Homo sapiens: one gene and its partners. The protein of the gene in region 1 purifies or fractionates together with the protein of each later gene. This does not show direct contact. Each region holds a gene or a part of one and is shown on either strand. Other genes may lie near its edges.

Region 1 (3,650 bases):
TGTGCAGGCCCCCAATACTGTGCCATCTCTGCATGCCTTTTCCCAAGGAGAGAAGGGAGTCCTACTCCCAGTTGGGACTGTCCAGACTGTGGTGCTAGAGGTGGTGTGGGGAGCAGGAGGGTCATTCCCATCTCTGGAATGTGGATCCCGAGGGGTCAGAGCCCAAGGCCCACCCCAGACAGACCTCTGTCTCCCTCAGACACTGACCACTACTTTCTGCGCTATGCTGTGCTGCCGCGGGAGGTGGTCTGCACCGAAAACCTCACCCCCTGGAAGAAGCTCTTGCCCTGTAGTTCCAAGGTGAGGCCGCAGAGCCTGGCAGCCGGGGGCGGGGGGTGTATAGAGAACCTGCGCCCCATGCCAAGTGCTCCATACAGGGCTTCTCTTATCTCTTTCCATCTCCTCCAGGCAGGCCTCTCTGTGCTGCTGAAGGCAGATCGCTTGTTCCACACCAGCTACCACTCCCAGGCAGTGCATATCCGCCCTGTTTGCAGAGTAAGTCATGGGGAGTAGAGGAAGCTGCCATCCAGGGGCTCAGAGAAGGTACATGTAAAGCATGTGGTCAGTGTCTGGCTCAGGCTGAGTGAGTACTGAGTGGTAGATGTGATGACGGTTATTCAGGGCATTGGCCAAGCACCAAGAAAACAGTGGTTGCCTAGCAAGCACTGAATAAATATTTGTCATGGAAAATAGTGGTTCAGAACAATAGCTATGCGGGTGCAATTGCTAGCTCAGTCACTTGCCAGCTGGCGTAACCTTGGGTGAATCATTTCATTCCCCTGAGCTTGGTTTCCCACCCTGCCACATGACATTGATAGTAGAATCCACTCCTAGGGTTGTTGTGATAGTTTATCAAACTGATGCACATACAGCTGTCAGCACGGGGTCTGGCACGAGGTCAAGTGCTCAGGAGTGGGTGGTAGCAAATCGATGGATGTGAAGATACATAGATGAGGGATTGAGTCTGAGTAGGAGTCTTTTTGGGGGCTGTGTGGTGAGAGTGATACCCCCTCACTGCTGCCATCTGGCCCTTGTGATAGAATGCACGCTGTACTAGCATCTCCTGGGAGCTGAGGCAGACCCTGTCAGTTGTATTTGATGCCTTCATCACGGGGCAGGGAAAGAAAGGTAAGTTACCTTGGCAACTCATCTGTACCCACCCATGCCAGCCCTGCCTTATCTATGTGGACTAGGCCTAGGCCTGGCCCCTGCTCAGCCCTGCGCTCTGTTTCTCAGACTGGTCCCTCTTCCGGATGTTCTCCCGAACCCTCACGGAGCCCTGCCCCCTGGCTTCAGAGAGCCGAGTCTATGTGGACATCACCACCTACAACCAGGTAACAAGGTCTCCAGCCACACACACAAACACACCGCTGGTCCCCAGGACCAGCCTACCCTCTCTGCTTGCTTCTTAGCCCTGCCTTTGTGTCCCCAGGACAACGAGACATTAGAGGTGCACCCACCCCCGACCACTACATATCAGGACGTCATCCTAGGCACTCGGAAGACCTATGCCATCTATGACTTGCTTGACACCGCCATGATCAACAACTCTCGAAACCTCAACATCCAGCTCAAGTGGAAGAGACCCCCAGAGAATGGTGAGTGGGTGGTTGGTTGGACTGCTGGGTTGCAACGGCTACAGAGAAAAGACTCACAATCCCACGTCTTTGCCGTTAGATGATTGGGTTGTATTTAGACCAGATTTCCAGAGTCATATGCTGCTGACTGTAGCTATTCCAAGCTCTACGATTTTGGGTAGGTTCCTAAACTCCCCAAGCTTCAGCATCCACATCTGAAAAATAGAGTATACTTAGCAAATTGGATGAGATGATGTGAAAAATGGAGTTAGTTCATGCATTTGCTTAATCAACCAAATACTTTTGAATTCATACTAAGTGCCAGGCATAGAGTGTTGAATAAGACAGAGGACACTGCACTCAAGAAATATAAGTCTACTAGCTAGGGCAGGTGTCAGTTAATTAATTACAGTTGTGTTCAGTTCCCTTACCAAGGGAAAGAGCAGAATATCCTGAGAGGACCTGGATTGGGTTCGAAGGGGGCACGGTGTTCGTCACGTAAGCACTTCAATACTAGCAACCTATTGTCATCATCGCTTGTTGGCTGGGGAAGACAGGGATGATTCCAGAACCCAGATTGCCCAGTTTCAGTGGCAGGGCTGTTCCCCATCTACTCACTGGCTTGGGACTCTGAACATGGCCTGGGCAGGTGGGGTGGGGAGTGATTCTTACCTTTGGCAGCTGTTAACTGTTGATATTTCTTTACACAGAGGCCCCCCCAGTGCCCTTCCTGCATGCCCAGCGGTACGTGAGTGGCTATGGGCTGCAGAAGGGGGAGCTGAGCACACTGCTGTACAACACCCACCCATACCGGGCCTTCCCGGTGCTGCTGCTGGACACCGTACCCTGGTATCTGCGGCTGTATGTGCACACCCTCACCATCACCTCCAAGGGCAAGGAGAACAAACCAAGTGAGGACCTGAGTCCTGAACCAGGCCCCCAGCCCGCCCTCTCATGTCCTCTCCAGGTCCCCCAAACTCTCATTTCCCAGGGTAGTTCCTGAAGTACCTCTGAAAAGCTACACAGGCATAAAGAGTAAGGAATAGTTTCTCAAAACTGGAACGGGAGCCTCACTGTGCCAGGTTCAGAAGTAATTTATAAAACAGCAATAATTAAAACACATAATACTGGTGATTCTTAATAGGACTGTACAAGGACAGTAGCTTCCTTTTTCACTTACTTTTGCCTCCTTTCTGGAGCATTGGGTTTTGTGATGATTCATAGACTCTTTAAGGTAGGGAAAGGGTTTGGCAACGTTAGGCTTTTGAAGCTAGGAAGATAGCAGAGCTGGAGTAGATGGTGTTTTGCTTCCTTGGGAGGGGTAAAGAGGTACAGTTAATTAAATTTTTTTATTTCTATTTTTATTAAAATTTATTTTTATTTTCTATTATTTTTCTAAGGAGAAGATAATATTAGTGCTTCCTATTAGGTGCCAGGCATAGCACTAAAGCACTTGCCTTTCTTTGGTGTAGGGGGAGACTAGTAGTAAAGTAAAAGACCTCTGAGGAAGAGGTTGTACCATATCCCAAACGGCCAAACTTAAAAACCTTTCAGTACTTTAGTTGATTCCTATATTTTCAAACATACGGTGAATAGTTTCACTTATTTTCAGCACCATTATTTGTACCACCTTCAAAATCTCTATTTCAGACATCCTAACTGCATATTCTATAGGTTTTTCTGTTATTATTCTTTTAAATCTTCTCCTTTGGAAAATTTCAAACCCAAACCCAAACAGAATAGTGTAATAATCCCCTGTACACACCCTGCAGCCTTTTTTTTTTTTTTTTAAGAGACAGACTGTTGCTCTGTCAGCTATGCCGGAGTGCAGTGGCATGATCATGGCTCATTGCAGTCTCAGACTGCTCGGCTCAAGCAATCCTCCTACCTCCGCTTCCCTAGGACTACAGGCATGAACCGCCATGCCTTTAATTTTTTCACAGAGGCAGGGTCTTGTTATGTTGCACAGGCTGGTCTCAAACTCCTGGCCTCAAGCGATTCTCCTGCCTCAGTCTCCTAAAGTGCTGGGATTATAGGTGTAAGCCGCTGCCTGCTGGCATATCTTAAAGCAAA
Region 2 (3,650 bases), about 18 Mb from region 1:
GAAGAATTCTGAATTCCAAAACCCATCTGCCCAAGGGTTTTAAACATGCAGTTCTGTGCGCCACAGTCCCTTGGTCCACGCTGCTGTTGAATGAACGCTCAGGTGGGTGGCTTCCACATTCCTGCCGCTTTGAACGGTGCTTCTGTGAACAGCGTTGTCTGTGTTTGGTGCATCCTGGTGAGTTTTTCTAGAATATAAATGTATTAAAAGTAGAATTGCTGGGTTGTGAGGAGCACACATGTTCAGCTTTGTAAGGAGTACCAGATTGTTTTTGTAGCACAGTCCGTTCTCCTGATACCAGAGTAGAAAAAGTTGAAGTGAACTTATTCTTTGCTAAGCATTGGCATTCTCAGTCTGGTGGGTGTCCCACGGCAGCGTTGTCTTTCCGTACATGCTCAGTGTGGGATTCTCCGGCTCACAGCTCTTCCAGCGCTGCCCTCTGCCCTTGGAGGAGCATCTAAACCCCTCCCTCAGCTGTTATTTTTTTCCTGTAGAAATAAATCAGAATGAGTTATGCAGAAAAACCCGATGAAATCACGAAAGATGAGTGGATGGAAAAGCTCAATAACTTGCATGTCCAGAGAGCAGACATGAACCGCCTCATCATGAACTACCTGGTCACAGGTAATGGCTTACAGTGAGGATGCTGTTGCATGAATGTGATTCTCCCTTTTTGAACACATAAGGAGTGCTGTAGCACTGAGGTTTGATGACGTAGTTATTTGTGTTCAGACATTATGAAAACACAATGCTAACCTGGTAAGTTTGGAAGTTATCATGTGAAAGCCTTTTCTGAAGATGAGATTTTTCCAGGTCTCTGAGACCTAACACAAACCCATTTTTCAGCCTTTGACAGTTTTACAGTTACTCAAAATAATTGAGACTGTTGTGAAGTAAGTATATTGAAAGCCTAAATAGTTGATCTCTTCTGGCCAGTCTGCAAAAATATGCTGGCCTGTTTCTGGAAAGTATGCCCAACTCAGAGGATGGGAATGGGGAAGAGCAGAAGCGTGCAGAGGGAAATAACAGTCAGGCTGTTCTTGATGTCAACTGGAGGAAGGGCAGTGCTGTATATGGCAAGAAAATAGATGTTTTTAAAAGACATGACATGAAAAATCTCCCTCCTGTTAGTCCCCAGTTCCTTCTCCCAAATTAATCTCTGTGAAACTTTTTTGGGCCAAGCATGGTGGCTCATGCTTATAGTCCCAGCACTTTGAGAGACAGAGGAAGATTGTTCGCGCCTAGGAATTCCAGACCAGCCTGGGCAACATAGTGAGACCTTGTCTCTACAAAAAAAAAATGTTAATTAGCTGGATGTGGTGGCTTGTGCCTGTAGTCCCAGCTACTTGGGAGGCTGAGGTGGGAGGATCACTTAAGCCCGGAAGGCGGAGGTTGCAGTGAGCCAAGATTGTGCCACTGCACTCCAGCCTGGGAGAGTGAGTGGGACCCCATCTCAAAAAAAATATTTTTGGAAGGTGAAGAGGAAATTTAGGCCTATAATTATGTCAGGGGCAGGGGAAGGGGCACACATGCTGGCTTTGAAAAATTGTAGACACTCTTAAGAGGTGGGAGTCAACAGGCCACTGCAGGTATAGCTGACCATGGAGGGCCCCTGTGCTGTGGAGGCTGAGCCAGTGTGACTTGCCTAACCTGGCACCAGAGCTGCGGCTGCTGGCGTCTGGACCTATTATCTGTCCTCTCAAAGGAGCCCACACCAACACACTGGGCCAGCAGCCATTCTGACCTCTTTGGCTAATGGGTTAGAGTTTTTGGATGGGATAACAAGGAATGAAGTATACTCTTCTCATTTTCTATATGTATTTTGAGAGCATAACTTGTAAATTATAAAGATATTAATACCGAGTTCCTGAGAAAGTGTGGTTCACATCAGAGGTTATTAATTGAGGCAATTGGAGTTTCTGGAGATACAAAGTCTTTGCCTTAATTCCTTGCTAACTTTCCTAGCAGTGAAGATGGTTTTTCTATTCAGAGGGCTTTAAGGAAGCAGCGGAGAAGTTTCGAATGGAATCTGGAATCGAACCTAGTGTGGATCTGGAAACACTTGATGAACGAATCAAGATCCGGGAGATGATACTGAAAGGTCAGATTCAGGAGGCCATCGCCTTGATCAACAGCCTCCACCCAGAGCTCTTGGACACAAACCGGTATCTTTACTTCCATTTGCAGGTATGTTTCAGGAGAGAGTAGTCTGGTTTGTGAATACTTGATAAGTTAAAGTTATTTGCAATGATTGAGAAATAACTAGGCTAATTTGCTTTAATAATGTTATTTCAATGCATGTGAGGGGGAGAGGTTTGAGTTTGCTCTTTTATGTAGTTCAGAAGCGGTTTTTTGTTTTAAAAATGCAAATTTGATAACTCAGAGATGCAAGAAAAGTCTTCCCTCTGTGATGTACTTTTGATTGGGACCTGGTACCACCTGCCCTAAGTCCCTGGCCTGGGTGTGTGGGGGTCAAGCTTGTCTGTCTCTGCCTCCAGCAACAGCATTTGATCGAGCTGATCCGCCAGCGGGAGACAGAGGCGGCGCTGGAGTTTGCACAGACTCAGCTGGCGGAGCAGGGCGAGGAGAGCCGAGAGTGCCTCACAGAGATGGAGCGTACCCTGGCACTGCTGGCCTTTGACAGTCCCGAGGAGTCGCCCTTCGGAGACCTCCTCCACACCATGCAGAGGCAGAAGGTGGGGCCTGCCAGAGGGAAGCTTTCTTCCATTCCCCATGTGCTCTGAGGGGGCTTCGTGACAACGCCAAGTGTGTGGCTTTGCTGTGTGGACTGAGAGACAGGTGGCTTCTGTGCCTGGGATGCTAAGTGGTTCCTTCATGGCTTTTTTTTTTTTTTTTGGAGGTGAAGTCTTGTTCTGTCGCCCAGGCTGGAGTGCAGTGACGAGATCTCTGCTCACTGCAACCCCCGCCTCCTGTGTTCAAGCGATTCTCCTGCCTCTGCCTCCCAAGTAGCTGGGACTACAGGAGTGTGCCACCACGCCCAGCTAAGTTTTGTATTTTTAGTGGAGATGGGGTTTCACCATATTGGCCAGGCTGGTCTTGAACCCCTGACCTCAGGTGATCCAGTCTCCCAAAGTACTGGGATTACAGGTGTGAGCCATCATGCTCAGCCTCTCTCTGGCTTTTAATCTTTTATCTTGTCAAACTAGGGACAACGGACTTGGTGATCGTTACACAGTATTCACACCCTTTGCTGGTGTCTTATATTTATCTGAACCTTCTTTCTGTTTATGTCCCAAGTATTTCTCATTTAAAATCCTGTCTTCTGAAACTTTTCTCTCCTCGCTGCTATGTTTTTGTCTGGCAGAACATGACAGCTCCTCGCCTTCCCAGACCCAGGTCCCTCTTCCCCCGGGTCCTCTCCCGGGGGCTCTGTCCTCCCTACGCTGTCTTGGAAGGATGGCCTGTCCTAGAGTCCACTTGAGATGTTTTCTTGAGGCTTGTGAGGAGGGTGCTGGTATGTCCTGCTACGCTGGTCTTACCTCTCTCCCAGTCCCCTCAGCACTTTGTTCAAGGCTTGCTCATGGCACTTAACTGCCATCGAGGTTGCATGTGACGTTTAACAACCAGACTGTGAGCTTCCCCAGGCAAGGACTATGTATTTCATGTCCTGAGAGTGTCTCGCAGTTAAG
Region 3 (3,650 bases), on another chromosome or scaffold:
TAGCTTAATTCAAAGAAAATTAAATAGTGCTATGTTAAAAGTAGGCAGAGTTCTTCACATTGTAGAAGTCAGTCTGGAGACTTGATTGTTGTAAATGTCCTTTTGTTTGTTTGTTTTACTGTTTTGTAACATAATCTGAAGGGTTTTATAAAAATAAATGCAGAGAGGTGAATTTAGCTTCACCACTCTTATTTGCATATCTGATCGCTTAGTAAATGGTAGTAATATTAATAGGATGCTTGCCTAGAATGAAAGAAGGGAATTTTTATAAGGAGGGTATGATCACTATTCACCCAGAATATAAGTATTCACTCTTACATATAAATCAACGCCTCATGTATCATTGGTTGATTTTGATAAAAATTATGCAATTTCAAGAAAGCAGAAAGCTCTTTATTCCAACATGTTTTTACCCTCACTGACAAAAATGACAACTTGAAAAATTATTTAGAAACTTGCATATGATAATCAGGGGTGGTATTTAGTGTCATTAGGGACAAAGTTTAGGGTTTTTTTGAGAATGTAAAACTGTACATGTTGGTTTTGTTTTAGCACATATGACAGGAACAAACTAAAACTATTCAATCTGTTGCCTTGTTCTGATAGATGTGTATGGACTCAGAAAAACATATGATCTACACTTTTGGTGGTAGAATTTTGACTTGTAATGGCAGCGTAGATGACAGCAGAGCCAGTGAACCACAATTCAGTGGCTTGTTTGCTTTCAACTGTCAATGTCAAACCTGGAAACTTCTTCGAGAGGACTCCTGTAATGCTGGGCCTGAGGACATCCAGTCTCGAATAGGACACTGCATGTTATTCCACTCAGTAAGAACATTCCGTACATTGCGTAAATGTTATTTTGTCATGTATATCTAGATAGGAAAAGAAGTGGTGAAATCTAATTCTTTAGGAAGAGATTAGTGTAGCAATGACAGAGAAAGACAAAACTTCTTTAACAGTGAACTGTTTGCTAATTATGAGACTCTTCCCATCAACCTGGTAATTCCTAAATAGTTACTACCTGGCTACCAACCTGGGCAATCTTATGACTAATTTCACTGCTTATGTAGATTTTGTAGCTATGTTCCTTTCTTATGCCTTTCCACTTACGTCTCTTAGTAATTAGAAGGACAATTTCTTACTCTGTTCTTATTTTCCCTTCTGCTATTCTCCATTAAGTACAAAGAATTTAAGATTTGATTTTATAGAATTAGAATTTAAATGTATCAGCAATGGTCAGGAGCAGTGGATCACTTGATTCCAGAAGTTTGAGACGAGCCTGGCCAACATGGCGAAACCCCATCCCCAGTAAAAATACAAAAATTAGCCTGGCGTGGTGACCTGTGCCTGTAGTCCCAGCCTCCCAAGTAGCTGGGATTACAGGCATGCACCACCACGCCCGGCTAATTTTTTGTATTTAGTAAAGACAGGGTTTCACCATGTTGGCCAGGCTGGTCTTGAACTCCTGACCTCAGGTGATCCACCCGCCTCTGCCTTCTGCGGTGTTGGGATTACAGGCATGAGCCACTGTACCTGGCCACTTTCTTGATGCTCAAATTTTTCTCTTTGGCTAGTAGGAGCACCCCCCACAACATATTTATGTATCTTTTTTTGTAAGAGAAAAATTAAATTGTGAATTCATACTGATATGTCTGATTCAAATAAAATATTTTTTATCTTAATGTCTTCTATTTTGTAACTTTATATCTTTTCTTTTTACCCCGACTGGAGCGCAGATCGTAGCTCACTACAGCCTTGAATGTCAGGGCTCAAATGATCCTCTCACCTTAGCCCCCCAAGTAGCTAAAACTACAGGTGTGTACCACCACACCTGGGTTTTGAGTAGTAGTAGTAGTAGTAGTAGTAGTAGTAGTAGTAGTAGAAGAAGTAGTAGTAGTAGTAGTAGTAGTAGTAGTAGTAGTAGTAGTAGTAGTAGTAGTAGTAGAAGTGGAAGTGGAAGTGGAAGTAGGAGACAGGGCCTTGCTGTGTTGCCCAGGCTGTCTCAAGCAATCCTCTCACCTTGGCCTGCCCAAATGCTAGGACTACAGGTGTGAGCCACCATGCCTGGCCTATTTTTGTGTCTTTTAAGGTTAAAATCCTGCTTCATAACATTAGTTGCTTTGTCTGTCTATAATAGCTTTCACAGTAAAGAAAACTAACAACAGAATCACTGAGTGCTGTTTAACGTTGCTTTCTGATTATTTTTCTGTTTAGGATTTAGACTTCTAGGGATGGGTAGTCAAAAAGTATGTATTAAAATCATTAGAAATACTATTTCTGTGTCTGAGTATATCTTTATATACAGATAGGTTTATTTGTTGGATTTTTTTTGCCCAAATTTTAGATTTTTTTTTTGAGTTAATTTTGTCTTCTAATTAAATAAAAGCATATACATTGTTCTAAAGTCAAAACCATACATCAAGGTATTATTTTTGGAGAGGTCTTCCTGCTCTGTTCCTGCCACTATAGGTAACTGTCTTTTATTAGGTTTTGGTTTATCCTTCCTTTGTTTTTCAAAAAAAGAAGCAATCTCTATTCTCGCTCTCGCTTGCGTGCTCTCTCTCTCACTTTTCCCCTCTCTCACATTCTCTTTCCCTCTCTCCCTCTCTTTTTGTCTGATGCACAGATATTCCTTCTTCTCCATTCCTACACAAAGGAAGAAGGAACCTGTATATATTATTCTGCACCTTGCTTTTCTTCTTTAACAGGATGTCCTAGAGATCCCCTTTTAGCAATATGTAGAGAGCTTCCTCTTTCCCTTTTATTCCAGCATAGTACTCCATTGGGATCTGTTATAAAATTACTTTTGTAGAGGTTTAAGTTTTTAAAGGATCATTCTGAGTTCTTCATGGAAGTGATAAGTTACTCCTTTCTTTTTTTTTTTCTTCTTTTTCAGAAAAATCGTTGCTTATATGTATTTGGTGGCCAGCGATCAAAGACCTATTTGAATGATTTCTTTAGTTATGATGTGGACTCTGATCATGTAGACATAATATCAGATGGCACCAAGAAAGACTCTGGGATGGGTAAGGGCATTGAGTGATTTCTTCTCTCATGTCTTAACTACTTTAGGTAGAAAACTGCAGTTCATTCTCTTTTCTTTCTAATCATTTTTCACCCTTTCTTTATTTCTTTAATTGAGTAATTCCAAGTAAGAGAAAGAAAATTCTACCAGCTTATTCAGTTCTATCTATTTTTAAATATGGGAATTACTATTTCCTTCAAGCAGAAAATATGTGAATTTCTAAATGAATTGTGTGTGTGCTTGTTGGGGGGCGGGGTAGGAAGAATCAATATCTTAAAAACTTTTTATTCTGTGTTTGCTAATTTTTTTCATCTTCTATTTTCACTGTAGTGATCTTTATATTAGGCACTAGCATAGTAGGGTGTGTGTCTTAAGGGGGGAACTTCATGGGATTGGTAACACCTTGTAAGTTTAAAAGCTCAGCATCTAGGAGGTTATTAGTAGTGGAATGGCTGGTTTGCTTAGATTATGCATATTGCCCTGGCATAATTATTAATAGTGCTCCATTCATTTTCAAAAGTGTCCTGTTTTGATCATTTATAGTTACCCTACATAGTAGTTGCTTTGCCTGTGATTATTGTACCTAAAAGAGTGGCTTTAATTAAGGTGCAATGGTTTAAAA

What was found.
Region 2: the proteins of PIGT (region 1) and GID8 purify together in Homo sapiens (co-immunoprecipitation; 3 studies listed by BioGRID and IntAct, with this or other methods). This does not show direct contact.
Region 3: the proteins of PIGT (region 1) and MKLN1 purify together in Homo sapiens (co-immunoprecipitation; 3 studies listed by BioGRID and IntAct, with this or other methods). This does not show direct contact.

Annotation. Positions count from the first base shown.
Region 1 is NC_000020.11:45,419,096-45,422,745, forward strand, and holds part of PIGT (GPI-anchor transamidase component PIGT isoform 1 precursor), read left to right. Parts: intron 1-199; coding exon 200-300; intron 301-377; exon of another isoform or gene 378-408; coding exon 409-495; intron 496-1,040; coding exon 1,041-1,128; intron 1,129-1,236; coding exon 1,237-1,334; intron 1,335-1,432; coding exon 1,433-1,598; intron 1,599-2,287; coding exon 2,288-2,488; intron 2,489-3,650. UniProt on the Homo sapiens protein: Component of the glycosylphosphatidylinositol-anchor (GPI-anchor) transamidase (GPI-T) complex that catalyzes the formation of the linkage between a proprotein and a GPI-anchor and participates in GPI anchored protein biosynthesis.
Region 2 is NC_000020.11:62,940,997-62,944,646, forward strand, and holds part of GID8 (glucose-induced degradation protein 8 homolog), read left to right. Parts: intron 1-494; 5' UTR 495-506; coding exon 507-624; intron 625-1,990; coding exon 1,991-2,187; intron 2,188-2,498; coding exon 2,499-2,696; intron 2,697-3,650. UniProt on the Homo sapiens protein: Core component of the CTLH E3 ubiquitin-protein ligase complex that selectively accepts ubiquitin from UBE2H and mediates ubiquitination and subsequent proteasomal degradation of the transcription factor HBP1.
Region 3 is NC_000007.14:131,442,875-131,446,524, forward strand, and holds part of MKLN1 (muskelin), read left to right. Parts: intron 1-606; coding exon 607-828; intron 829-2,899; coding exon 2,900-3,029; intron 3,030-3,650. UniProt on the Homo sapiens protein: Component of the CTLH E3 ubiquitin-protein ligase complex that selectively accepts ubiquitin from UBE2H and mediates ubiquitination and subsequent proteasomal degradation of the transcription factor HBP1.